Regions from separate parts of the Homo sapiens genome. Here region 2 is linked to region 1. Evidence: fine-mapped expression QTL. A gene starts in region 1. The other region holds a variant in brackets. All regions are shown on one strand. Distances are from middle to middle.

Region 1 (15,443 bases):
TTGGAATAATGGCCTCCAGTTCCATCCAAGTTGCTGCAAAAGACGTTATTTCATTCATTTTTATGGCTGGGTAATATTCCATGGTGTATATATACCATATGTTCTTTATCTACGTCTTGGTCAGTGGGCACTTAGGTTGGCTCCATATCCTTGCAACTGCAAACAAATTGTGCTGCTACAAACATGCGTGTGCATGTGTCTTTTTCATATACTGACTTCTCTTCCTTTGGGTAGATACCCAGTAATGGGATTGCTGGATCAAATGATAGATTTACCTTTGTTTTTTTTTGTTTTGTTTTGTTTTTGTTTTTGTTTTTGTTTTTGTTTTTTGAGACGGAGTCTCGCTCTGTTGCCCAGGCTGGAGTGCAGTGGCGCATCTCGGCTCACTGCTAGCTCCACCTCCTGGGTTCATGCCATTCTCCTGCCTCAGCCTCTCGAGTAGCTGGGACTACGGGCACCTGCCACCACACCCGGCTAATTTTTTGTATTTTTAGTAGAGATGGGGTTTCACCATGTTAGCCAGGATGGTCTCGATCTCCTGACTTCGTGATCTGCCCGCCTCGGCCTCCCAAAGTGCTGGGATTACAGGTGTGAGCCACCACGCCCGGCCTACCTTTAGTTTTTAAAGGAATCTCTGTACTGTTTTCCATAGTGGTTGTACTAATTTACATTCCCACCAGCCGTGTAAATGTGTTCCTTTTTCACCATATCCATGCCACCATTTATGGTTTTTTGACTTTAATTATGGCTATTCTTGGCCGGGCGCTGTGTCTCACGCCTGTAATCCTAGCACTTTGGGAGGCCAAGGTGGGCGGGTTGCCTGAGCTCAGGAGTTTGAGACCAGCCTGGCCAACATGGTGAAACCCCATCTCTACTAAAAATACAAAAAATTATCCGGACATGGGGGCGTGTGCCTGTAGTCCCAGCTACTCGGGAGGCTGAGATAGGAGAATTGCTTGAACCTGGGGGGCAGAGGTTGCAGTGAGCTGAGATGGCGCCACTGCACTGCACTCCAGCCTGGGCGACAGAGTGAGACTCCAAAAATAATAATAATAAAATTTAAAAAAAATTAGCAATTATGGCCATTCTTGCAAGAGTAAGGTGGTATCTCATTGTGGTTTTACCCTGATGATTAGTTAAGCATTTTTTCACATGTTTCTTGGCTGTTTGTATATCTTCTGAGAAATATCTTTTCCTGTCCTTTGCCCACTTTTTCATGGGATTATTTGTTTTTTTCTTGCTGATTTGTTTAGGTTCCTTGTAGATTCTGGACACTAGTCCTTTGTCAGAAGCATAGTTTGCAAATATTTTCTTCCACTCTATGGGTTGTCTGTTTACTCTGCTGATTCTTTCTTTTGTTGTACAGAAGCTTTTTCGTTAGTTTAATTAGGTCTCATTCATTTATTTTTGGTTGCATTGCATTTGTTTGTTTTTTTGTTTTGTTTTGTTTGAGATGGAGTCTTGCTTTGTCACCCAGGCTGGAATGCAATGGTGCGATCTTGGCTCACTGCAACCTCTGCCTTCCGGGTTCAAGCGATTCTCCTGCCTCAGCCTCCTGAGTAGCTGGGATTACAGACGTGCGTCACCATGCCCAGCTAATTTTTGTACTTTTAGTAGAGACGGGGTTTCACCATGTTGGCTAGGCTGGTCTTGAACTCCTGACCTCGTATTCCACCTGCCTCGGCCTCCCAAAGTGTTAGGATTACAGGCGTGAGCCACCATGCCTGGCCTGTTTTTTGGGTTCTTAGTCATAAAGTCTTTGCCTAAGTCAATGTCCAGAAGAGTTTCTCCAATGTTATATTCTAGAATTTTTATGGTTTCAGGTCTTAGATTCAAGTCTTTAATCCATCTTAAGTTGATTTTTGTATAAGGTGAGAGATGGTGATCCAGTTTCATTCTTTTACACGTGGCTTGCCAGTTTTCATAGTACCATTTATTGAATAGGGTGTCCTTTCACCAATTTATGTTTTTGTATGCTTTGTGGAAGATCAGTTGGCTGTAAGTATTTGGCTTTATTTCTGCATTCCCTATTCTGTTCCATTAGTGTAAGTGCCTATTTTTATACCAGTACCATGCTGTTTTGGTAACTATAGCCTTGTAGCATAATTTGAAGTCCAGTAATGTAATACCTCCAGATTTGTTCTTTTTGCTTAGTATTGCTTTGGCTATGTGGGCTCTTTTTTGATTTCGTATTAATTTTAGGATTTTTTTCTAGTTCTGTGAAAAATGATGATGGTATTTTGATGGGAATTGCATTGAATCTGTAGACTGCTTTGAGCAGTATGGTCATTTTCACAATATTGATTCTTCCCATCCATGAGCATGGACTCTATTTCCATTTGTTTGTGTCATCTGTGATTTCTTTCAGCAGTGTTTTGTAGTTTCCCTTGTAGAGAACTTTCACCTCCTTGGTTAAATATATTCCTAGGTATTTTATTTTTACTTTTTTGCAGCTGTTGTAAAAAGGATTGAGTTCTTAATTTGATTCTCAACTTGGTCATTGTTGGTGTGTAGCAGTGCTACTGATTTGTGTGCATCGATTTTGTAATCTGAGGCTTGACTTTAGGAACCTTTTGGATGAGTCCTTAGAGTTTTCTACGTATATGATCATATCATCAGTGAACAGTGACAGTTTGACTTCCTCTTTTCCAATTTGGATTCCCTTTCTTTCTTTCTTTTGCCTGATTGCTCTGGCTAAGACTTCCAGTACTATGTTGAATAGAAGTGGTGAAAGTCGACATCCTTGTCTTGTCCCAGTTCTCAGGGGGAATGCTTTCAACTTTTCCCCATTCAGTATGTTGCCTATGGGTTTGTCAAATATGGCTTTTATTACTTTGAGGTAAGTCCCTTTTATGTCTATTTTGTTGAGGGTTTTTATCATAAAGGGATGCTGGATTTTATCAAATGCTTTTCCTGTTGTCTATTGAGATGATCATATGGTTTTTGTTTTTAATTCTGTTTATGTGATATATCACATTTGTTGATTTGCGTATATTAAACAACCCCTGCATCTCTGGGATGAAACCTGCTCAATCATAATGTATTATTTTTCGGATTTGCTGTTGGATTCAGTTAGCTAGAATTTTCTTGAGGATTTTTGCATCTATGTTCATCAGGGATATGGGTTTTCTTTTCTTTTTTTTTTTTAATGTCCTTTCCTCATCTTGGTATTAGGGTGATGAGTGGCTCCATAGAATGATTTAGGGAGAATTCCCTCTTTCTCTACCTTTTGAAATAGTTTCAGTATGATTGGCACTAATTCTTCTTTGAATATCTGATGGAATTCAGCTGTGAATCCATCTGTTCTTGGACTTTTTTTGTTGGCAATTTGTTTATTACCGATTCAATTTCATTGTTTGTTATTGCTCTGCTCAAAATTTCTATTTCTTCCTGATTTAATCTAGGAGGGTTGTATGTTACCAGGAATTTATACTTCTTCTCTAGATTTTCTAGTTTGTGCATGTAAAGGTGGACTTAGTAGCCTTGAATGATCTTTTGTATTTCTGTGGTATTGTTGGCAATATTTCCAGTTTCATTTATTTACTTATTTATTTAAGATGGAGTTTCGCTCTTGTTGCCCAGGCTAGAGTGCAATGGCGCGATCTCAGCTCACTGCCACCTCCGCCTCCCAGGTTCAAGCGATTCTCCTGTCTCAGCCTGCCAAGTAGCTGGGATTACAGCCATGAGCCACCACGTCCAGCTAATTTTTGTATGTTTAATAGAGACGGGGTTTCACCATGTTGGCCAGGCTTGAACTCCTGACCTCAGGTGGCCCACCCACCTCGGCCTCCCAAACTGCTGGGATTACAGGCCTGAGCCACCATGCCTTGCCTCCAGTTTCATTCCTAATTGAGCTTGTTTGGATCTTCTCTCTTGTTTTTTAAGTTAATGTTGCTAATGGTCTATCAATTTTGTTTATCTTTTCAAAGAACCAGCTTTTTGTTTTATTATCTTTTGTGTTTTTGTTTGTTTGTTTCAATTTCATTTAGTTCTGCTCTGATCTTTGTTATTTCTTTTCTGCTGGCTTTGGGTTTGGTTTGTTCTTTTTTCGTCTAGTTCCTTAAATTGTGACATTTGTTTGTCAATTTGTGCTCTTTCAGAGTTTTTTTTTTGTTTTTTTCTCTCTTTTTGAGACAAAGTCTTAGTCTGTCACCCAGGCTGGAGTGCAGTCACACCATCTCAGCTCACTGCAACCTCTGCCTCCCAGGTTCAAGTGATTCTTGTGCCTTAACCTCTTGAGTAGCTGAGATTACAAGTGCATGCCACCATGCCCAACTAAATTTTGTATTTTTAGTAGAGATGGCGGGGTTTCACCATGTTGGTCAGGCTGGTCTCGAACTTCTGAACTCAAGTGATCCACCTGCTTCTGCCTCCCAAAGTTCTGGGATTACAGGTGTGAGCCCCCATACCCATCCTATTTTGATGAAGTTATATTTATCATTTTTTTCTTTTATGGATTGTGCTTTTGGTGTCTTATTGGAGAACTCTTTGCTAACTCAATGACATAAAGATTTTCTCCTACGACTTCTAAATTTTTTGTAGTTTTATGTTTTACATTTAAACTTATATTCTATTTTAGTTAATTTTGCTGGCCGGGCGCGGTGGCTCACGCCTGTAATCCCAGCACTTTGGGAGGCCGAGACGGGCGGATCACGAGGTCTGGAGATTGAGACCATCCTGGATAACACAGTGAAACCCCGTCTCTACTAAAAATACAAAAAAATTAGCCGGGCGTGGTGGTGGGCGCCTGTAGTCCCACCTACTCGGGAGGCTGAGGCAGCAGAATGGCATGAACCCGGGAGGCAGCGCTTCCAGTGAGCCAAGATCACGCCACTGCACTCCAGCCTGGGTGACAGAGCAAGACTCCGTCTCAAAAAAAAAAAAAAAATTTTTGCCATAAGATGTGAGGTATAGGCTGAGGATTTTTTTTTTTTTGCATATGGATGTCCAATTGTTCTAATATGTTTTGTTGAAAAAAACTATCCTCACTATATGAAATTGCCTTTGCATCTTTGTAAAAATCAATTGGCAATATTATGTGGGCCTATTTGTGGGTTCTCTATTTTATTTCATTATTTCATGTATCTATAACTCCACCAATACCATATTGGCTTGATTAATGAACCTTTATAGTAAGTCTTACAGTCAAGTAATGTGAGGCTTCTAACTTCTTTTTCATAATTGCTTTGCTAGTCTAGTTCCTTTGCTTTTCTATATAAATTTATTATCACCTTGTCTGTATCTACAAAAAGTGGAAATGCACAAATGCATAGATTTATTGAAAATGTATATTTGACTATAATGTCATCCAACCCATGAATATAGTATATTTCTCATTTAATTAGTTTTTATTTGACTTATTTCATGAGCAGCTTATAGTTTTCTACATACTAATCCTACACATATGTTGCTAGGTTTATACTAAAGTATTTCATTTTGGGGAGTTTATCGTAAATGAGTTTTTTTGAATTTTAGTTTTCAATCTTTTGCTGCTCATATATAGACACAAAAATAATTGTTGTAGGTTGACCTTGCATCCTACAACCTTGCTAAACTCACTGGGAACTATGCAGATAATCATGTCATCTGTATAGGGGCAGTTTTATTTCTTGCTTTCTAATATATACGGTTTTTTTTGTTTGTTTTGTTGTCTTATTGTACTGGCTAGAATTTCCAGAATAATGTTGAATAAGAGTGCTGAGAATGTATTATTTACCCTGAGTGAGGAAAAAAAAAAAAAAGAGTGGTGAAAATGAATATCCTTGCCTTGTTTCCAGTTTTGGAAGCAAAGAATTCAGACTTGTATAAGTTTAGCTATGGGTTTTTTTTTAATAGATGTCCTTTATTATGTTAAGGAACCTCCTCTCTTCCTAGTTAACCGAGAGTTTTTATCATGAATGAATGTTGAATTTTGTCACATACCTTTTCTGCTTTAATTGATAGGATCATGTAGTTTTCTTTAATCTATCTTTAATGTAAAAGAGCCTTACCAGTCATATTTGCTATGACTATTTAATCCTTTTTTTTTAGACAGCGTCTAGCTCTGTCACCCAGCCTGCAGTGCAGTGCTGCAATTACAGCTCACTGTAGCCTCAATTTCCCAGGCTCAAGAGATCCTCTCACCTCAGACTCCTGAGTAGCTGGGAGTATAGCCACACACCACTAAGCTTGGCTAATTTTTTTTTTAAGAGACTGGGGTCTCACTATGTTGCTCAGGCTGGTCTTGAACTCCTGGGCTCAAGTGATCCCCCCATCTTGGCCTCCCAAAATGTTGGGATGACAGGCATAAGCCACCACACCCAAACTTAATCCTACTTGTTAAATAGTGTATTAAAACACCACTATATGGCCGGGTGCAGTGGCTCACGCCTGTAATCCCAGCACTTTGGGAGGCGGAGGCAGGCAGATCACTTGAGGCCAGGAGTTTGAGACCAGCCTAGCCATCATGGCGAAACCCCATCTCTACTAAAAATACAAAAAATTAGCTGGGCGTGGTGGTGCACGCCTGTAGTCCCAGCTACTCAGGAGGCTAAGGCAGGAGAACTGCTTGAATCCAGGAGGTGGAGGTTGCATTGAACTGAGATTGTGCCACTGTACTCCAGCCTGGGCAACAGAGCAAGACTCTGTTTCAAAAAAAAAAAAAATGCCACTGCATGTTCATTTTCTTTCAGCCACTGAATATAGGGCTTTTTGTAATGACAAAAGTTATTATTAGGGGACTTAAGAGATTTTCTATGGTTATATATATTTTCAGAATAAATAGGCTTTGCTAAGTCTTAAGTTCTTTAAAATAAACATTGCCTCAAAATTTAAAGTTAGGATGATTACAATGGGTTTTGTTGTTGTTGTACAAACATTCACTTGAGAAGTTGAAAGCCCAGTCACAAATGTGTTTTGTCTATACATGAAAACAAACGAAGGGTAAAAGGTAAATGGGCTTTGTATTTATTTCCTAGGGCTGATGTAACTAAGTACATCCAACTAAATGGCTTAAAACAACAGGAATTCAATGTCTCACAATTCTGGTGGCTAGAAATCTAAAATGAAGGTGTCATCAGGGTTATGCTCCCTCTGAAATCTGTAAGGGAAGTTTTTGCCTCTTCCTAGCTTTTGGTGTTTGCTGGCAATACTTGGTGTTCCTTGGCTTGTAGATGCATCACTCCAATCACATGGCTGTCTTCTTCCTGTGTCTTCCCCTCATCTTTCCTGTGTGCTTGTCTGTGTCTGTGCCCAAACTTCCCTTTTCTATGAAGACACCAGTCATATTCGATTAGGACCCACACTAAGGACCTCATTTTAACTACATTACCTCTGGAATGACCATATGTCCAAATAAGTTCACATCCTGAGCTTCTAAGGGTTAGATACCTTCTTTCAACATTACTTCACAATAATTCAACCCATAACAGGCACTACTCACTTTTAACAGTAGATGAAGTAGATTGTTTGTATAGAAGGCCACAAATTTCCTCCTACCTTTCTATTCATGTCCTTTTGCTTCCTGACTTTGCTGCTTCTCCCATCAAGAACTGGAGTCCATTTCCACCTCCTCTTGAATCTGCCCTGGCCTTGTCTTGCTTTGACCAGTCAAATGAAATGGAAGTAATTTCACACAACTACTAAGTCTAGGTCTCCAGGTGCCTTGCAATTTTCACTCTCACTCTCCTACCTGAGATCTTTTTGTAAATAAGTCTGAGACAGGCTGCTATAGAGATTAGTGGGTGAGGTCTGAGATGCTCCAACCAACAGCCAGCACGAATTGCCAGGCATTTGAGTCAGGGAATCTTAGACTACGAAGCCCCAGCTGAGCATCTGGATTCTGGTGCTATAGATGCATGAGTGACCTCACACAGAACCAACAGAAGAACTACTCAGCTGAGCCCACCCCAAACTTCTGTCCTACTGTTTTAAGCTACTACGTTTTGAAGTGATTTGTTACACAACAATAAATGATTGATACAGAAGAATGTTAAAAGCTTGAGTCTTCTGTTGTTTACAGTCTGAATTGCCTCAACTAAATCACTTAATTCTAACAGCCCCTGCTTCCTTTTTTGTAAAATGTAGATATTTTACTCATCTGTCACCACTGGTTCCAGGTTTCAGGTTTTCAGTTTTAATGAATAAAAACGTAAGGGATAGGAATAAGAGGAAATTATTAGCTCAAGTAACTGACAAGTCAAGGAGTTGGTTTGGCTTCAGGTATGACTTGATTCAAGGACTCAAATGAAGGTATCAGGGATTTGTTGGCCCCCACCTCTGTATTCTTTTTTTCTTCTTGTGTCAGATTCTCAGATGGGCTTGCCCCAAGTGAGGGCCCTCCTTGCAGTATGAGGTTTAAGTTGATCTGGCCTGGCAAACCTAAAAGGAAGTTTGACTTTCATTGGACCTACTAGAAATATGTGCCCATCCCTAGACCAGTCTGGTCAGAGGGATGAAATGCTCCATTTGGTCAGGACTAGGGCACGTGTCCACCTAACCCAGTGAAGTGGAGAGGTGGAGGTAGGGATAGGGGAAGAAAGGGTTAGGCTCACCAAGACCATCTGGGGAGACTGGCACAAAGGAAAACTGGGACACTATTACTAGAAGAAAAGAAATGGACGCTGAGCAGGTAGAAAATAACAGATGTTCACTTCTTATTACATAGGCTGGGTAAACAGATAACAGTAATAGCTTATACTTATTAAATGCTTATTAGGTTCCCAGCACTGATCTGAATAGTTTATGTATATTAATTCCTCTTATTCTTCTCTATTTAGGAAGATGTATGGTTATTATAGTATTCCTACTTTACAAATGAGGAAGCCAAGGCATAAAGTGATTAAGTTGCCTATGGTCATGCATATATGAGTAGCATCAGAATCTAACTAGACTGGCTTGAAAGCTACTGCCTTTAACCTCCAGTCTATATTCAAAATAGGTCACCAGCACTATGGTAGGCAGGATTCTAACATGGTCCCCAAGATCCCCAACCCTTGGCATATAATTCCTTCTTCTTGAAAGTGGGTGGGACCTGTGAACATGACAGGATAGCCACTCCCTTGACTAGGTTACATTATATGACAAAAGTGATGAAACGGTCACTCTCTAGACTCCTGTAGGAGGATTCTCCTGCTGACTTTCAAGGAGTAAGCTGCCATGTTGTGAGGGCGCCGTGTGGCTTAGACCACTAGTTGAAAGCAGCCCTTGGCCAACAGCCATCAAGAAAATAGTAATCTCAGTCCTACAACCACAAGGATCTGAATTCTGTCAATAACCTGAATGTGCTTGAAGGAGGAGCCCAAGCTCCAGATGAGAAAGCCTGGCCCATCCCTTGATTTCAGCCTGATGAGCCCTTGAGCAGAGGACCCAGCCATACTGTGCCCCAGCTTCTCACCTCTAAAAGTGACAGGCAATGAGTATATATTTTTTTAAGCTGCTAAATTTGAGGGTCATTTGTTACTAACGTCAGCATCTTCTCTTTGTAGCCTTTTTATCTTCCATCAGGGTAGCTAGGCTCTCCCTCCTTTGGCACTCCCAGGGCTTTTCACACCAACTTGCTCACTGTTATCATAGAGCTCCCATATCACCTGGGTTAGGATTGTAATTACCAGGTAGGAGCATGGCAGGGCTACTGCTAGGTCATTATTGTGTGACTAGCACTTGAAAGTGTCTATTATATATGAATCGCTCTGTAATTGGTTGCAGAATAAATGAAAAGGCATCTGTGATGTATGTTTGCAAAATTTTATCTTTTGTAGGAACTGGTGGGGCCTGGATTGTGCTTCCAAGGGTAGTTTGGGGGTAACCTTCAGCCTGGGGTCCTAGGACAGTCACCAGTCCATACCGAATTGGATGTGAAGTTTTAGCATGGGGCCTCCTACACTACTAAGGTAGTGGTAATTCACTCTGCAAACCCATATGAGGTTTTCCCCGACTCTGAAGCTCTTTTTTTACATTCCACATTTTGGTGCCTTCTCAAGCCATTATTCTGTTGCCTTGAATCACAGCTGTGGAGGCAAACAGGCCTGGGTTGAGAATCTCAGCTCTGCTGCCCACTAGCTGAGGATCCATCATTGTACTCTTCTGAGCATGTTTCCTTGTCTATTAAATGGGGAAAATAATTCTCACAGCTGGCAGTATTTTAAGAACTCCATGAGAGAACGGAGCATGGACTTAGGAAGGTATGCTCCCATAAGGCATGGGGGCTTGCCCTTTTTGTTCGAGGCTGTGTTCCCAGTGTGTCCCTCAAACAGTAGGTGCTCAATACATTTGTTGAATGAGCAAGCAGTTTATGGCATGAATTCAGCACAATGCCTGGTAGACAGTAAGCATTCCACAAAGGACAGCTTTTACTGTCCATTTCACAGAGGAGGAAACCTCACCTGAGGACGCTGACACAAGTATTTGACGAGTTTTTCCTATTTTATCACTCGACATTAAGAAGGTAGTCAGGGATGCTGGGGTAATCTAACTTGAGGAACGAATATCCCTCATTACAACACTTCCAAGAAAAATGGCCCTCGCAATCCTTTATAAAGAAGTCAGGATTCCAATAAAACCAGGAAGGACCACATTCCAAAGCAAACAAACTCGCCTCATTCCCCACCCTGGGGGAGGGTGTTCACCCCCGTTCTGCTAAAGATAGAGCTAGGGCCCTCCCCAGGAACTTCCTGGCTTTTATTAGTTTGTAATCCCATACGTAACTTTTCAAAGGTTTTTCTTTTGGAAGTGTGGGTGTGAAAATGCTTCCTTAATCACATCGAACGGGAGGATCTCCGACCATCTGTACTTTATTTGAAAACCTAGCATCCGGTTGGGATGTTTGGGTGGGTGGAGGACCCTGCCGTGTTGGGATGAAACAGCAGGGACACGTTTAAAACACAAGAACCATGCGCGGTGGCTCACGCCTGTAATCTCAGCACTTTGGGAGGCTGAGGCAGGCGGATCACAAGGTCAGGAGTTCGAGACCAGCCTTGCCAAAACGGTGAAACCCCGCCTCTACAAAAAAAACCAAAATAAAACAAAAAACAAACAAAAAAAACCACCAAAAAAATAATCAGCCGGGCGTGGTGGCGGGCGCCTGTAGTCCCAGCTACTCGGGAGGCTGAGGCAGGAGAATCGCCCGAACCCGGGAGGCGAAGGTTGTAGTGAGCCGAAATCGAGCCACTGTACTCCAGCCTGGGCGACGGAGCGAGACTCCGTCTCAAAACAAAACAAAACAATCCCACGTCAAGATCGCTTTGAAACACAGGCAGAAAAATTAGGCAAAAAATGTCAAACGGCTAATTACCTTGGCTCAGTTACACATTTACTCGAAAGCCCGCCTCCCCCACTTTTAGCCCCAGCGTTAAGAATGTAAAATAGGGCGCTTAGAAGTCTAAGCGATAAAGATCTTCTTACCGAGAGCCAAGGGACAAAACTCATTACAGATAAGCCTAGTCCTCCCATTTCCCCCGGACGCCTCTCCCCGATTGCTAAAGAAGCAGCCGCTCCCCGGGTAGCTGCCAGGAAATCAGTCCGGCCCCGCGGCGCTGCTTTCACCCTGCAGGGTGTAAGAGGCGCACTTCCTGCGCCCTCCCCGCGGCCAAACCGGGGTGCGGGAACCTTCTCCAGAGAAGCTGCGAGTTGGGGAAACTCCGCCACCGATCCATCGTGGCGCCGGGAAAGGGGATGCGGGGCTCGGAAGGGCTAGATTTCGCAATCCTGGGATCGACATTCCTCCCCTCCCCCACTTTCCCCAGCCTTGGACTGGGCCAATGAAAGCCCGAAAAAGAAAAAAAAAAAAAATTAAATCTCAATGTAGCCGGAGTGCAAAGGCCGCTCGGCTTTGTTTCCCGGCGGGGGAATGCGCTGTGTTGGAGGCGCGAACAGGAGCCGCAGACGGTGAGCCTCACCGCTGCAAATGCCAGGGCAGTGAAGCCGAACAGAAAACCCCATCGCTTTAAAAAGGCAGCTGTCCGCCCTCCCCCTTTCCCCTCGCCAGGGCGAGGGGCCCCTCAAGTCCGGGATCCGCGAGCTGCGCGGAGGATCTCGCCAAACCCGAGCACCGTGCGGCGTCTTTTAAGAGCTCGAACAACGGGAATCCAGCAAAAAACAAGCCGGCCCCAGAAGGCAGCCTCCCTCCTCTCTCCGCGCACGGGCTACAATCGCCCCCAGTCCCCAAACTGTCCCAGTAGAGGCCGCGCGGAGAGAGCAGAGCCGAGGGACCCAGCGCAAGGCGGGAGCCAAGCGCGGCTGCTTTAAGAACGCGGAGAGCGCGCGCCCGCCGCCAGCTGGCCCGGGCTGCGCGCCCCCGCCGCCACCGCGCGCCCCCTGTTCGCTCGCTCCTTCGCTCGCCGGCTTTAAAGTCTCTGCCAGGATCCATGCTCACATGTTACTTCCTGTATGGAGGCATGGCCAGTTTCCAGCCCCGCGCTCTTCGTTCCTTCCCAGCCTGCGCCGGAGCCACAACTTTCAGGAGCATGGACTGAAGGCGCCCTCGCCCCAGCGCCCCTCTGAGATCCTTTGTGTTTTCCTCCGTTTCCTCCGGCCGTTTCTATTTTGGGGGGCTCTCCGCTCCCCCTGCCTCTCCCCTCCCCTTCCCCTCTCGCAAACATGCCTCCTTCCTTCCCGGGGCCCTGGAAGGAGCTGCCTGCCTGAAGCCCGGAGACGCCGCGCCGCGCTCAGCCCCGCCGCCGCCCGCCGGCTCTCGGGCTGTGCTGCGCTGCCGACTCAAGTTGGGGATCCTCGGCTGCTCGCCGCCGCCGCCCGCGGTCCCTGCCTGCCCCAGGCCCGGGGCATCGCCGCCGGCCGCCGACTCCGCGCCCTGCCCGATCGGCTCTCTCCTTTTTAAACGGAAAGCAGCCTTTCTCCGCCGAGAGGATCGTCCCCAGCGTGGCTCTGCGTTCCCGGTCACTTTTTGAGATTTTCCGGGGGGCGCTCGGCGGCTTCCCGGATTCCAAGGGGACTCGGGCCGCCGAGCGCGGGGGGCCCGTGGAGCGGGCGAGCCGGGGAAGCGCCCCGGCTTAGCGGAGGCTCGCACGGAGGCAAGAACTTATTCAACAAGTTTACCTCCCTGCTTTCCTCTTTTCGATGTGCGTTTTCGGACATGCGGAGGTTACTGGAACCGTGTTGGTGGATTTTGTTCCTGAAAATCACCAGTTCCGTGCTCCATTATGTCGTGTGCTTCCCCGGTGAGTGCCGGCCGCCGAGGGGATGCGGCCCCGGCCGGCGCGCGTTGGGGATGCGGAGTTGTCGCCTGGGCGCGGAGCTCCGGCGCCCGTCCGGGAGACCCTGGAGAGGGTGGAGGGTGGCCCGGCGCCCGGATAGGAGAAAAGGATTGCTCCGCTGGCTTGGATGATGTTTAGGGAGGCAGGCTAGTGGTCGAGGAAGGTGGAGGCAGGGGCTGGCCGGGGAGGGGGCTGGGGGACGCGGGGGTCTGCTCCCGCTCCCTTTTGGGGGTCCTGGGGAGCTGGAATCGGGAGAAAGGGGGACTTGCTTTGCTGACTCGTCGCCGATCGGGAGAACTCGAGTTGTGGGGCGGTTGGGGAGACTGAGGCCATGGAAAGGATGCTTCTGTGGGTTTGGGGGGCCCGGGATGAGCCCCCTCGCTCTGGCGGGTATTGAAGGAACTCAGAAGGTGGGGGTTTGCTTTGCTGTTCTCCATCCCTTTGGGAGGGCTAGGTTTCGGGGAATGGAAGTCGGAGGCTGGCTGCGGAGGACTGAGGATGTGTGGGGAGCAGCCTGCGTTCTGGGTCGGGGGCGTCCTCCCTCTCTCTGGGGGCTGGGGCGCGGGCAGCACTTCGGTGCCGGCGTGAGGCAGCCTCCTTGGGCGCAGTGAGACGGCAGGGCGCAGGCGGTTTCGGAGAGATCCGTGTCTCCCCTAGCCCCGGCCCGTGGCCCTTTCCCTCCGCTGCTCTGCTCGATTGGATTGCCTGGGTCTGGACGCGGGGAGGGGGCGGGGGCGGTTTCGGCGGCCGGGGCGGTTTCGGCGGCCGGGTTGCTGTTCGCGCCGGGGCTGATTTTTTTCCTGTCTCGCGCGCCCTGCCTACCTTCATCTTTGCCCTTTTGCAGGCTGTTCGCGGCTGGCAGACCCAGTCTCGCTCCTTTCTGGCCAGGTTAAGACAGGAACAATACTGGCCGTTGATAAGAATAAATCACCGCACGTAACGGTGTGCGGCTCGGCGACCCTCCACTTCCAGCTCTCAGCTGGCAGTTCCCCCTCCTCTCTCCCCTGGGGAGGGCAGAGGCCAGCTGCCTCCCTCTCCTCTCTTGCAGGTCCCCCGGGCAGCAGCCCCGAGCTCCCTCGTAGCTGTCCCTTGGGGTGGAGGCCAAGTCCTGCCCTAGCCCGGGGAAGGGCTGGAAGAAGGGGTGATTTGCTTTTCATCCCTCGCTCCCCTAAGGACAGAGAATTCCCCGTTTTTCTGCCCTCTCATCCATCAACTCCTGCATACCCGGAGGTGGAGGTTATCTGAATCAAGAAAAAGAGGAATGTGCCCCGAGGTCTCCGCTCTGCCTGGTTACAGACGCCTGTCCTCGGGCGGCTGGAGCGCCCGTTTTTGGTGCAGCGGGTCCCTTAGTCCCGTCGTGCGACCCGGAGCAGGGCGCGCGGGAGCCCTCGTCGCCCTTGGGGATCCCCTCGGGGGACTGGCAGCGAATGCCCCCTTTGCAGAATCGGGGATGGCCTCGAGGGGCAGAAAGGGAAAACACCGTCTGGTATTCTGCACCCCCTTTTCTCTCTGCGCATCCTCCTGCCCGCGGAGCGGCACGGAGCTCCAGCCCAGAAACGCAGCTCGGAGGCCGAGCTAGGACGTGCGTCCACACTCACCCTGGGGTTTGCCCACTGGAGTCCTGCCTCTACGGTAGGACACTGGGGCCTGGGGTTTGCCCACTGGAGTCCTGCCTCTACGGCCTCTACGGTAGTGTAGGCCATGGGGACATCTCCCCTTAGAAACAGCTGCCTTCATTCACTAAAAGATCACTGCTCAGTATTTGGGTTAATCATCTCTCCTTTCTAGTCTCCCCTGCTTTACCACGGACTTGACGACTGAGCGGGCTCAGGTGCACACAGGGGTTGAGCTTTGTGAGGGCCACTCTTTAATGGGTGCAGTGGGAGGTCGTGGAGGGCTGCCTTGCAAATTAGAGGAATTTCCAATTCCACTTCTGTCCTTCTTGCGCTCGGGGATGCAGTCAGTGGGCTGACCGTGGTTTTCTTTTCCCTGGTGTGTGAGGAAGCTTGAGATCCAAAATGGGACTGCCAGGGAACCAGCCTTCGTGGGGCTTGGACCATTTTCGTCTTCTCATTTTCTTTTCGCGCCCACGCTGCGAGGTAAATAGCCCCTTTCCTGGTCCGGGAGCCGAGGGGTGTGGGAAAGGGAAAGGACAGTGGTGGGAGGCGCAGGGAAGAGGGCGGTTTGGTTTGGAAAAGTGCAGCCCGAGAGGGAGCAGCAGGCTTTGGAGCAAGGTAAAGTTAAAATATCAGAGCT
Region 2 (13,614 bases), 96 kb after region 1:
GTCCTGGGATCAAAGGCATGAGCCACCGCTCCTGGCCAGATCATCTAATTCTTAATTGAACTGCCTTCTTTGTCCAAAACTCTTCTGGAATTACACATCTAGAAATGCTCCCATTCAAAACATTATTCCCCTAGAGGAGTTCTTTGTACCCTTTCCCCAGCCTCCCCCAATGATGCATTCTATATACTTATAGTGTAATATCAAAACCAAGAAACTGACATTATCAATTCACAGACTTTATTCAGATTTCACCAGTTTAACATGCACTTATTTGTATTTACTCAGTGGTGTTTGTGGTGTGTATGTGTATGTATAGTTTTATGCATTTTTTTCATATGTGTAGATTTGTGTGACCAGCATCACAATCTAGATACAGGACAGTTCCATCACTGCAAAGATCTCATATGCTACCCCTTGATAGCCACCCCCACATCCCTAACCTCTAGCAATTACTAACCCATTGTTATTTCGAGAATGTCATTATATAAAGGAAATCATACGGTACATAACCTTTTGGTGCTGGCTTGCTTTACTCAGTGTAGCTCCCCAGACCCATCCAAGTTGTTTGTTCCTTTTTATTCCTGAGCAGTATTCCATGGTAGGGATGTGGCAGTTTGTTTATCCGTTCATCTGTTGAAGAACATCTGGGCTTTTCCTAGTTTGGGGCTATTACAAATAAAGCTGCTTATGAACATTTGTGTACATAGTTTTTGAGTGAACCTAAGTTTTTATTTCTCTGAGATAAATGCTCAAGGGTGCCATTGCTGGGTCGTATAGTAAGTACATATTTAGTTTTATGGGAAACTGCCAGACTATTCTCCTTTACTAAGCACGTGATAACTGGAATTGGCAGTGTTTGAACAGCTCTTCCTGTCTTTCATTTTACCGTCTTTCACACCATTATCTGGATTAATTTTTAAACAAAAGAGGAATTGCAGTTTTCTTACATGCCAGATATTATACTAAGCACCATACACATACTATCTAATTTAAGCCTCATAACAACTCCCCAAAGGAGGGTCAATACCATTGTTTCTCTAAAGAAGGAAACTGAGCCACATGGTATGTGCGATTAATGAGCTAGATGATCCTGTAATTGTTCAGGTTCATCCAGCTCATTAAAAGTTATCAATTGGCCGGGCACAGTGGCTCACGCCTGTAATCCCAGCACTTTGGGAGGCCGAGGCGGGCGGATCACGAAGTCAGGAGATCGAGACCATCCTGGCTAACACAGTGAAACCCCGTCTCCACTAAAAAATACAAAAAAATTAGCCGGGCGTGGTGGCAGGCACCTGTAGTCCCAGCTACTTGGGAGGCTGAGGCAGAAGAATGGTGTGAACCTGGGAGGCGGAGCTTGCAGTGAGCTGAGATCACACCACTGCACTCCAGCCTGGGTGACAGAGTGAGACTCCGTCTCAAAAAAAAAAAAAAAAAAAAGAGTTAGCAATTCAAACTCTGACCTTGGAGCTGGTGCTGCTTTTCTGAAACCACTGAATGTTTGGTGCCCTTGATGCCTTGAGATGTTCCCTTACGAAGTGTCCTGATTGTGATTGCGGCCTGTGAGGCCCGTTATGGCTTGTCTATCTACTGACACTCCCTTGTACCCATCCGTGAATCCTCTGTCCTCTTGGGTTTTATTTTTCTGTCTTGCTTTTGATATGCCTGAAGCCCAAGACAGGCTGCAACTTCATGATAAGTGGAGGCTTCATGTTTGATTAAACCAGTCCTATGCATTGTCACCTGAGAATATCCTGACAGTGGAATTAGTAAAGGAGACTACTGCAGGGTGTTGTGGACCCCCATGGTGATGAAGACACTCTGAGATTAAAATAACATATTAGGAGATTCGTTAACATAGTTGTCCATTCGTTACCCAGGCAATCCTTGTTTCATTCATAAGGTCTCATGACTGCATCTTAGTTGGACTTAGCAGCACCTAACTTCTGCGGATTCCCTGGCATCCCTCCAGGACCCCATTCTTTCCTGCCTTGAATGCCTTCCTGTGTTTCACACATAGGCACCAAGGATCCAGGTGGAAGACACCTAGCTTGCTCCTACCAGGCTACACATTTTCACCCGAGGGGAAATGAAAACTGGGCAGCAAAAGAGAGGTTTTCTTTTGGAATTACACATCTTGAAATACCTCAGTTCCTCTGTCCTGAGACAAAGGCATTTCATTTTTTGTTGGCAGCTAAATGCAGGGTGTTTGAGTGGGGTGACCCCAGGCTGATGCACCAAGGGAACGTCTAATGCCTGCACTTCCCAGGCTTTCTGCTGCAGAACACACACTCATTTGGCTGCCATCTGTAATACAGTCAGAGAGAGAGGGCAGACATTTTTCTATTAGGTTCTATTACCTTGTATTGGAAGAATAATGGCATGTTGCTTGAATGTTTCCCAAGAGAATGTTTTCTGTGCTCCGTGTATATTTCAAACTCCAAATAAGAAAAGTAATGAGGGTTGGGGGCTGCTGGTGAGGCAATCTCCACTTTAAAGATTCTGATCTTTGTTGAAGCAATTATTTATTTACATGAAAAAATAATGCCTTTTCCTTGAGCTGTCTCAGGAAATCCAAAAGTGAAGAAGCAAATAGACGTTTCATATAGTATAGCAGTGTCAAAGAACAGTCATATGTGAGTTTATTACCAAGGTTAAAAAACCTAGTGTTAACTTTGGGTTTGTCTAAGTTTGTTTTTCATTGTTACACGAGTATGCCGGAGACTGGTTAATTTATTTTACTTCCTCCCTCCCTCCCTCCCTTTTCCCTTTTCACTTCCCTCCCTCCCTTCTTTCCCTCCCTCCTTCCTTCCTTTTTCTATTTTCTTTTAAGAGATGAGGTCTTACAGTATTGCCTAGGCTGGTCCTGAACTCCTGGGCTCAAGTGATCCTCCCACCTCAGCCTGCTAAAGTACTAGGATTACAGGCATGAGCCCCTGTGCCTGGCTTTGGTAATTTATAAACAATATAAATTTATTTCTCACAGTTCTGGAGGCTGGGAAGTCCAAGATTTAGGTGCCAGCAGGTTCAGCTGTCTGGTGAGGGTTTTTCTCTGCTTCCAAGGTGGCACCTTATTGATGCATCCTCTAAGGAAGATATGCTGTGACCTCTCATGCAGAAGTGGAAAAACAAGTGAACCAAACACTATCTGAAGACTCTTTTATATGGTTCTTAATCTCATTAACAAGGGAGGAGCCATCATGGCCTAATTGCCTCGTAAAGATCCCGATTCTTAATACCATCACATTGACAACACCTACGTTTTGGAGGAGACATGCAGGCTTCAAATCACAGCAGGGCTAAATCAGCATAATATGACAACTTGGATTTATTGTGTTGAGTATAATGCAAGGCACTTTGCTTATATTACATTGGCTCCTCTTAGAAATAGGTTGTCGTATAGATGCACAGACTGACACTTAAAGTTTTAGTTACTTGCTCAAGATCATGTGGCTGATGACAGGGCTTGAAATTGGTAAAGCCTTGGTTTGGGGTTTGAATCCTGCCTTATGTCCCTGAGCTCATTATTTCAACAGACTTGCTATAATCTGCTGGTGGAAAGCAGACCATCAAGAACATCTTTTACAAATGGTAGCCTGAAGGTCCTAATAAACAGGGCACTGAGTTTTACTGCTAAACCTAATAAGGGGAGTCTCTGGTTTCTCTCGATTTCTCCTTGTCCTTAATTCTTCCACCTTTTCTTCCCAGAAGGAAAAATAAAACCCATAAGCACCAGGGATTAAAAAGCCTGGTACTTTTTTTCCCCTGTACAAATGCAGTGATACATATTGAATGTGTGAAAACCAGAGCTGTACACGGCTGCTGAGAAATTATCTTTTAATACATAAGGGTTACAAAACCAAATCAAGGAAGCCAAGGGTGGGGGCACCATGTACCTTGATCCTAAAAATGTTGAATGCCAGCGAGGTATTACAGAATCTACCATTGCCACTCACCTAGGAACACCAGTGGGAATGTGTAGTACAAGATTTTTGTGGAATGAGACTCATGTTCGAAGAACACAGTGACGAGTTCCGCACAAAACTGTTGAGAAGCAGCCAAAAAAGAGCTCATAAGAGATTGAGTCCCGGCCAGGAGAAGGGAAACTTG[G/T]CACCTGATTTTATTAGGATGCAATAGTTATCCAACCATTGGATGTGCCTGCGGTTTTCACAGGGAAGACCGTAGACCTCAGGATGATAACTGAGTAAGAAAGAAGTTTTGTGTTTGAGCCCATGTGTTTCTAACCAGAGTGCTCTTTTCCATGGAATAAATGTTTCCTAACACTAGTGTGAAGATTTAATCAAATACACACTTCCTCATCAAACGCACAGTCAACTTTTATCTTAAAATTTATTAATGTGATGGTTTTCATTTTCAAATGTAAGCATTTTCAAACACTTAATTGTTTAACTCTCGATTTGCAAAATGAGTTTTTTGGTGAAATGTGTCATTTGAGGGTCTTTTACCACTGTTTGGTTTTATAGCTTGCTTTTCTTGTTTACTTTATGATGTAAACTAATTTTTACTACCAATAAAAGTTTTAGGAATCCTATTTACATGTGAACAATGATTCAGCAATTTGAACCTATATTTTTTGCTGTGGAGTTGTCTAGTAAAAGTTTATATGACTCTGCTGACTCTAATGGCTCCGATAAATTACACATTTATCTGTGTGTATGTTTATATTTTTTTCCTCATTGCCTACACTTCTAGAACCCTGTTCATCAACCTCAATTACACGATGTATTTGGACACTCTTTCTCTTTTTTTTTTTTTTAAAGGAAAAACATAATTTCTATATACTACCAGATGGGTGTGTTGGCTGTAAGATAAAAATCCCAAAATACTTAAGAGACCATCTGGTATCTTGGTAGGGTTTAGTTGATTAAGTTCTTGTGTATTGATTTCAGTCTGAGCAGAGGTAATCTTATCCCTTTGGATCTCTACTTAAAGAAAAAAGTTGTCGTTGACATTTTGTCCCATTGTTAATAATCTTTTTTTTTTTTAAGTTTCACAAGAAAATACTAGTGATAGATGATAGCAGCCATTGATTTATATGCTCACACAGTTGCTCATGACTAGTGGTTGTTTATCCTGAACGGGCCTGATGAAGCCTTAGGGCTAGACTTAGTTCATGAGACACAGATTTCTTTAGAAGATGATAATGGGTCCATGTGGGAATTGACCTGGATTCATTGGTGTTGAGCTTGAAGCTAAGCAATTTCCGTGCACCATGTTGGAAGTTTTCTGGGTGTTACTTTGTAGGCCACCAGTGAATACTGCACCTCTGGTGTACCTTGGAGAGTGTCAGAAGCTTTATATATATTGATCCATGTAAGTCATGTAAGAATCAAATAGCCAGGTGTGGTGGCTCACGCCTGGAATCCCAGCACTTTGGGAGGCCGAGGTAGGTGGATCACTTGAGGTCAGGAATTTAAGACCAGCCTGGCCAACCTGGCGAAACCCCGTCTCTACTAAAAATACAAAACTTAGCCGGGCATGGTGACACACACCTGTAGTCCCAGTTATTCGGGAGGCTGAGGCAGGAGAATCACTTGAACCTGGGAGGCTGAGGTTGTAGTGAGTAGAGATCACACCACTGCACTCCAGCCTGGGCTACACAGCGAGACTTCATCTCAATATATATATAAAAGTAGGCCAGGCGCAGTAGCTTATGCCTGTAATCCCAGCATTTTGGGAGGCTGAGGCAGGTGGGTCACGAGATCAGGAGTTCAAGACCAGCCTGGCCAAGATGGTAAAACCCCATCTCTACTAAAAATACAGAAATTAGCAGGGTATGGTGGTGGATGCCTGTAATCCCAGCTACTTGAGAGGCTGAGGCAGAGAATTGCTTGAACCTGGGAGGCGGAGGTTGCACCGAGCCCAGATCGCCACTGCACTCCAACCTGGGAGACAGAGCGAGACTCCGTCTCAAAGTAAGTAAATAAAAAATAAAATGAAGAATCAAATAAATAGTGCTCTATTCCTCATTCTGCAGATGCGGAGTGTGTTAGCCATTGACAGGGCTGATCTTCAAGTTTACCTCTGCCTGACTCTGAAATTAGAATTTCCTCTACGGTGCAATCTATTTTCCCTGATGGCCAGGACACTTGTTGAGCTCTTTCTTTGGGTCATGGACTGGGCTAGGGTTAAGGGATATTCAGTGGAGCAAATGTTCCCCTTCTCTGCCCTTCTAGAACCTTGTTCCTCTAGTTACAATATTTTAATATTGTTGTTAATGTTTCTTTTCTTATTTATATTTAAGATACATCCTCAGGCTCTTCATTTTAAACAGGGATTCTCAACCTTAGCACTAGTGGTATTTTTGGGCCCCGATAGTTCTGTGTTGCTGGAGCTCTTCTGTGCATTGTAGGATGTGTAGTAGTATTCCTGGCCTCCACTCACTGGATGCCACTAGCATCCTCCTAAGTTGGAACATCCAGGGGTAGTCAAATGCCTTCTGGCAAGTGGGGGATTCTCCCCTAATAGAGAACCATTCTTCTAATGTAACTGCCAGCTATTTGTCACTGGGTGAAGGGTCAGAAGCCTGTTTGGCAGCTGCAGAATCTTTGTATCAAAATGCTATGGAGTGGAGATTTACACTACAACCACCAGATATCATGGGGGTAGAAATTATGCCAAACAACAGATTTGTATTCATTGCAGAACATTTTATAAGTACATATAAGATAAGGGAAAAGTAATTTTTTTTAAAAGTACTTATAAGCCAAAAGAAGAGACAATTTAAAAAATCATCTCACAATGTAGAGATGAATGTGACTTAATGTCACTACATCCTGATAGTTTTTTTTTTCTATACATATTACACATAGGAAAGACGTATTGTACATATAGGGTTAGTCAAGACATCCTGTCTGTGACTGATGTTATGCAATCTACTTTTTCATTTTATATTGTGAACATTTCCCCATTTCTTTAAATTATCCCCCTTTTTTTTTCCAGCATGGTTCATAATGGGTGGCATATTTGTCTCCTGTTCCTTGTCATTTTTAGCAGCTGCAATAGTGATCCTCCATAAATGGGCCAGTGTCTACTTTTCTGTCATTTTAATGTTGGACATTTTATTTGTTTTCATTTTTTTTTTTGTTCTAAATAATGCTTTTAGTCCTCACGTATTTATGTACATGAGACTGTATGCCAGGCACCCCTGCTTCAGGTACCTTGGATAGAACAGTGAACAAGGCTGATCCCTGTCCTCATGGATCTTACAGTCCAGCTGCGTATGTGTAGCTAAATCATTGCATATGTCTTTGTTTTGTTAGGATTCGTCGTGCCCTGCCATTTTCTCAGATGTGTTGTCCCCTGCCCTTTCAACTTTCTTTGCTCATCAGGGTAACCTCTTCCTGTATAAGGGCCCAGCCTCTATGAAAGGGAGGCTCTAGAATCTGCTCGCCTGTGAGATTAGAATTCACCTTGGCCCACACTGTTCCCAGTTATCTAGTGAAATCAGCATGAATCAGAATCTACTAGAAGCAGCATGTGTGCAGGTTGTTAAGCGGGGAGCGGTGGGGGGCGCGGGGAACTGTAAGGGAACATGTAAGGCTAATTAAGGTACATCATCTGTTAGGTGTCTTTTTTGTCCTGTTTTTCATGGATGGCTCCAGGGGAAGCCCAGTGCCACATCTGAGAGGCATAGAGGGAACATGAGATACATGCCCTTCCAGGGCACTTTGACTTTGACAAATTACCTAATCTCTTCGGACCTCAGTTTACTCTTGTGCCTTATAGTGTTGTGGTGAGAAATGAATCGTGTGTGAATAGCATTTACCGTGGAGTCTGGGATGTGGGAGTCATTCAAGAGAATGGGGCTGCTCTTGTGCTTTAACCAACACCTGCCCGCCACCCCCTGCACCCATATGCTAGATAATTGATGTGCGTTCTCAAGTCTTCATAGCACATTTAGGAGATATAGGTGGAATTTTGTTAGTTTTTGCTTCATATGCTTTGAGGCTCTGTTGTTAGGTGAATATATATTTATGATATCATTCTTTTTTCTTTCTTTCTTTTTTTGAGACAGGGTCTCACTCTGTCCCCCAGGCCAGAGTGCAGTGGTGCAGTCTCAGCTGACTGCAGCCTCCGCCTCCCAGGCTCAAGCAATTCTCATACCTCAGCCTCCTGAGTAGATGTGACTAGAGGCATGTGCCACCATGCTCAGCTAGTTTTTTGTATTTTTAGTAGAGATGAGGTTTCGTCATGTTGTCCAGGCTGGTCTTGAACTCCTGAGCTCAGGCAGTCCGCCCGCCTCAGCCTCCCAAAGTGCTGGGATTACAGGCGTGAGCCACCATGCCTGGCCTATAATATAATTCTATCCTGCTTTCTTGTATGCAGCCCAGGGCTTAATGGGTTGACCTTCTATGCTGCTGACAAAGGAAGGCTACCTGTGCTTTTTCTTTTTTTTTTTTTTTTTGAGACAAAGTCTCACTCTGTCGCCCAGGCTGGAGTGCAGTGGTGCAATCTCGGCTCACTGCAACCTCTGCCTCCCGGGTTCAAGAGATTCTTGTGCCTCAGCCTCCTGAGTAGCTAGGATTTTAGGTGCCCACCACCATGCCCAGCTACTTTTTGTATTTTTTTTTTAGTAGAGACGGGGTTTCACCATGTTGGCCAGGCTGGTCTCAAACTCCTGACCTCAGGTGATCCACCCACCTCGGCTTCCCAAAGTGCTGGGATTACAGGCGTGAGCCACCGCACCCGGCCACCTGCGCTTTATCAGCTTATTGAGGTGTGCGGCAGGAGTCCTGGTTGCCTGGTGAGTCATCCTGCAGGTGGAATGGTTGAGTCGCCGAGTCCCCTGCCAGATTGTCCAGAGTTGTACAAGGGCACAGTGCTGCCTCTCAATGACAGGAAATAGGTATGATTTCCTCTCTCTTCTTTGTCCTTATTTCATCTCTGATTATTGTCTTCCCAGCATTTAACCACATTTGCAAGTTACGTTTTTCACTTATTTGTTGACCTGTTCATGATATTCATTAATCCTGTAGATTAAGATCTTCAGGGATTGTTATCAGTTTCACTTATTCTTTTATCATATGGTCCCAGGATACTGCCTGGCACATAGTAGATGTTCAGAAATATGGACTAAATGAGTATTATAATTGACACATCTCAGTCAAGAAGGAGTGGCAGTTATACTCAGTTGTAACTTTTTCTTGAAGATATGTATCTTCAAGTTACTTGTACTAATGGGTGGTTGCATATTTTGGCTCTTTTACTTTGTATTTTTTTAGAAACAGGGTCTTACTTTGTCACCCAGCTTGGAGTGTGGTGGCAGGATCACGGCTCACCACAGCTCACTCCTGGCTCACTCCTGGGCTCAAGTGATCCTCCTGCCTCAGCCTTCCCTGTAGCCAGGACAACAGGCATATGCCATCATGCCTGGCTAATTTTTAAATTTTTTTTGTAGATATAGGATCTCCCAATGTTGCCTAGACTGGTCTTGAACTCCTGGTCTCAAGCCATTCTCCTGTCTTGGCCAACCAATTGTGAAACTGTGTCTGGCCTGTTTAACTCTTAAGTGTAGATGTAATTTACTTCATGAAAGAGTCAGACTCAGTGGCTTATACCTGTAATCCTAGCCCTTTGTGGGAAGCTGAGGTGGGAGGATTGCTTCAGGCCCTGAGTTTGATACCAACGTGGGCAACATAGCAAGACCCCCCCCCCCCCGACCATCTCTAAAGAAAATAAAATGAAAAAATAAGCTGGGCATAGTGGTGAGCTCCTGTAGTCCCACTTCTCAGGAGGCTGAGGAGGGAGGATCAGTTGAACCCAGGAGTTTGAAGCTGCAGTTAGCTATGATTGTACCACTGTATTCCAGACTGGGCAACAGAGCCTGACCCTGTCTCTTAAAAAAATAAATAAATAAGAAAAACAAGAAAGGGCTTCTTTCCTTCTGAGTGTGTGAGCATCCCTCATTTGATGCAGAAGGTGAGGTGACACAGAAGTGGTCTCTGTCTCAGGGATTAGCAAATTTAGTAGGGAAATGCCTCCATAGCCCCCAATTTACATATGAATAGTTAAAAACTGACCGTTTCATAAAATAAGCCCTAACCAGGAATGCATTTTAAGGGAATACTCTTGTGATGAGTGGATTTCCAGAGCAAAGAAGAGACACAGTCTGAGTTACCAGTGCCAATTACTTGGTACCACTGCAAATCATTCCCCTTTGGCAACATTATTTTTAAAATTAACTTTTAGGAATTTCTTCTCCAAGCGTATTCTTGGTTCGGCATTCTAACAGTTCATTTACCTGATTGCATTTGATGGGTCTGTTGGGATTCTGGAATGTCAATTTTACTTTTTAGGAGATAGGTTGCCTGGGTCATGTCCAACATTCTTGTAGATTGAAGATATTTTCCTTAGCTTCTTGTTCTTTGCTTTCTGGACTCACATCCTTTAGTTGTTTTCGATTTGGGGCTACTATAAAAAATGTTTTTACTTATTCTCCAGATATTTTCTTCCAGCCATATGCCGGGCCCCTTTGTTTCAGGCACCCAGGATAGAGTGGTGAACAAATCCCTGCCTGCACAGAGCTGACATTCTAGAACCTGTGTAGGGGAGAGAAGATTCCTTTCCCTTACACATCAAAAAGTTCATGGCTGAGGCCCCCATAACAGATTAACAAGAGAAAAGCAAGCATATTTATTGAATATCAGTTTTACGTGTCACAGGAGTTTTCAGAAATGAAGACCCAAAGCAACGGGGAAAACTGTATTTTTATGGACAGTGGTGCCAAAGTATGATTGGAGGACAAAGGGGTATTATTGTCTACCGGTAATAAACTGTGGGGGTGGAGGGGAGCCAGCAAGGCTTGTTTTGTTCAATTTCTTCTTGGTGTCTCACAGAAATAAGGACGTTCCTTTCCTCTGGGCATGTGGAGGACCTCTCTAGAATGAGGGTGAGACTATGACCTACTTTCAGGGGAAGGTCAGTTAAGTTTTATAACCAGTTTCAGGGGGAGAAGGGATGAGAGAGGACCAGAGAGACCATCCTGCTTTTGATGTTCTCCCAAAGGCAAGGTGCTCCATTTTGAGGCCAGGAGTTTGGTACTAGCTTGGGCAACATAGCAAGAGCCCCCGTCTCTACACAAAATAAAATAAAAAAATAAGCTGGGCATGATGGTGAGCTCCTGTAGTCCCACTACTCAGGAGGCTGAGGAGGGAGGATCAGTTGAACCCAGGAGGTGTTCTCAACTCTGGCACATGCTTGTAGCTGAATTATTGATGATGCCTTTGATTTGTTTTCTTGGGATTCATTGTGCCCTAGTGTCTCCTGTATGTGCCGTCCCTCATGCCTTCAACTTTCTTTGCTCAAAATGAAACCAATTGATGATAAATGAAAGGATCAGTAGGCTTTAAAGCAGTTATTTACAACTGAGCATTTAGAGTTCCCACGCTTAAAAAGTGGGAGCTGTTCCCATGGCTGCTGAGAGTGCTGCGGAAGCTGGTTCTCTTTGTCCTTAAGTTGATCGATAGCAGGCATCAGCGGGGAAGATGCTTTGTACTTTGCTTGTTAAACAGAGGGCTGCTAAGCAGCTGTGGCAGTGTGACCCTGGTTGTGCTGCTGTGGGTGACATGAGTGTGCATGTGGACAGTGGTTATGGTGCTTCCCTACACACTGGGCACCCACCCTATGGACAGACACACTCCATGAAAATGTTTGGGAAGTATAAGAGCTCCAGGCCATGGGATGAAATGGGAAGGACCTAACTCTGATTTCTAGATTTGGAATTGAATCTGCATGTACTGTTCAGGTCATTGTTCTGGCACATATTTGACGGTTTGGTTGTCTTCAAGCTCAGGGGCTGCGAAAGTTGCCAGAATAGGAATGTTCTGGCCTGATGCAAGCAGGCACCCGGTGCCTGTGGATTCAGGACTGGTCACACTGCAGCTGGACATTATGAATTCAGATGTCCCTGATGAGACGGTGTCCTAGGACAGTGGCTAGGTGAGGTCTCAGGATCTCAGGTACAAGGTTAGAGGAGGCAACGTGGAGTCACAGTGGAGAGCCTGGTTGGTCCCATAGCCAGATAGCTACAGGTTCAGGTACCAGCTCTGCCCTCATCTATTTTTTGTGACCTTGGGAAAGTTAGATAACAATTTGAGCTCCTTTTTCTATCTTGAAAATAGGGATCTAATGTCTAACTTAGCTCCCTGGTGTTTTATTCTCCCCATCTCATCCACATCACACTTTTATTTTCAAGTCTTGTTTTCTTTCTGTCATTTATTCCCGAGATAAGTGTATGCTTGTTTTGTTGTTTATTTTCCCAGCTAGGATACAAGTTCTTTGCGAGTTAAGGATTTGATTGGTCTTGTTCACTGCTCTGTCTCAGCACCCAGCACCTACTAGGTGAAGTATTTATAGAATGAAAGGATGAGTTTGCTAGACACTCATGGCCATGATCTAGTGCTCCCAGGTCCGTATTTTTTGGCCAAAGCCAGAAAAAGACCATCTTCAAGTAGAAACATAGTTATACGCCTGTAAAAATTTGACACATTATAGATTCTGGCCACCATGCCCTTGGAACTTCACTTCTGAATCTGTGTTCAGACCAGGAATGTAGCACTGGTTCTCATGGCTTGCTTTGGAGGAAGTCTTTGGAAATTTTTGCTGATAGCCTTCTACCTAGGAGCATGAGTTCGGCTGTTTTCTCCTGCCCCTGCCCCTGCCCCTGCCCCTGTTCCCCTTTTTGGACAGTGCCCAAGACCTAGCAGACACACCTTGGGGCCCCTCTAGCCTGAAAGCCTTTGGTAATCCCTGCTTTTAAGGGCCTTTTGCCATGGCCTGATGAACATCAGACAGGATGCTGATGGTTTTATTCTTGTAGCTCCATAGCCGTCAGCCTGAATAGATGTTCTCAGGGCTTCATATAGGCATATACAATGTATGTTTTCTTTCATCGACAAAGGCACTGATGGTGCAAGTCCAAACAGTGCTGCTCAGTTGAGGATTTTCTTGTTCAATTTTCGGGAGCTCTTGACTGACTGCATTCTGCTTCACTGGAGAAGAAGATAGTTTGATGAGGCTGTGTACACTTCTTAAAAGTGAAAAAGCCTTTGCAGGTTTGTCCAGACAGTGGGGTGACCAGGAAGGAGAGTCAGAAGAGAAGGTAGGGGTCTGGATCCTGATTTTGAGTGTTCATTTCCCAAAAAATCTTAGGAAGATAAACACTTTCTTGGTAACCTTTGAGTGTCATGTTCCTTCTCTGAAGAGTGTATTAGATTCCATGTGGTATACCCAGTAGATTGCATTTTGAGTGTCATTGATGATTAATGGATAGAGACTGCTTAGACCACTGTATGGAGAAGGATTCTGAAGTCATGTCTGGGTGCAGTGGGAGAGTGTCATGATACATTGATTATTACTTTTCATAACCGATTTACCTAAACCAAATAATACTAGTTTTTAAATTCCTGGATGTGATACACAATTTCCTTTAAAAATAAATTTAATTAGAAGAAATGAATGGTTTTTTTTAAATAAGGAAAACTAGAGTTTTTCAGGGGGAATGTGGCTATGGTGGAAACTTTGAACATAGTATGAGAAAGAATGAAATTCTGGCCGGGCGCGGTGGCTCACACCTGTAATCTCAGCACTTTGGGA

Evidence for each region. PIP is the estimated chance that this variant, and not a neighbour inherited with it, causes the effect. A credible set is the group of variants that fine-mapping cannot tell apart.
Region 2: its variant is the best candidate, but not a certain one, in a credible set for the expression of PTPRG in tibial nerve (GTEx, PIP 0.58).

The regions. Positions count from the first base shown.
Region 1 is chr3:61,549,222-61,564,664 of GRCh38, forward strand. PTPRG (protein tyrosine phosphatase receptor type G) reads left to right here and starts at 12,350. Exons shown (of 30, transcript NM_002841.4): 1 at 12,350-13,151. The coding sequence starts at 13,067. RefSeq lists an enhancer at 10,452-11,127.
Region 2 is chr3:61,646,375-61,659,988 of GRCh38, forward strand. The region is part of intron 1 of PTPRG (protein tyrosine phosphatase receptor type G); the gene reads left to right. It overlaps LOC124906245 (a long non-coding RNA gene), which reads left to right and starts at 13,127. Exons shown (of 2, transcript XR_007095942.1): 1 at 13,127-13,614. The variant G/T (reference allele first, on the strand shown) is at 4,108.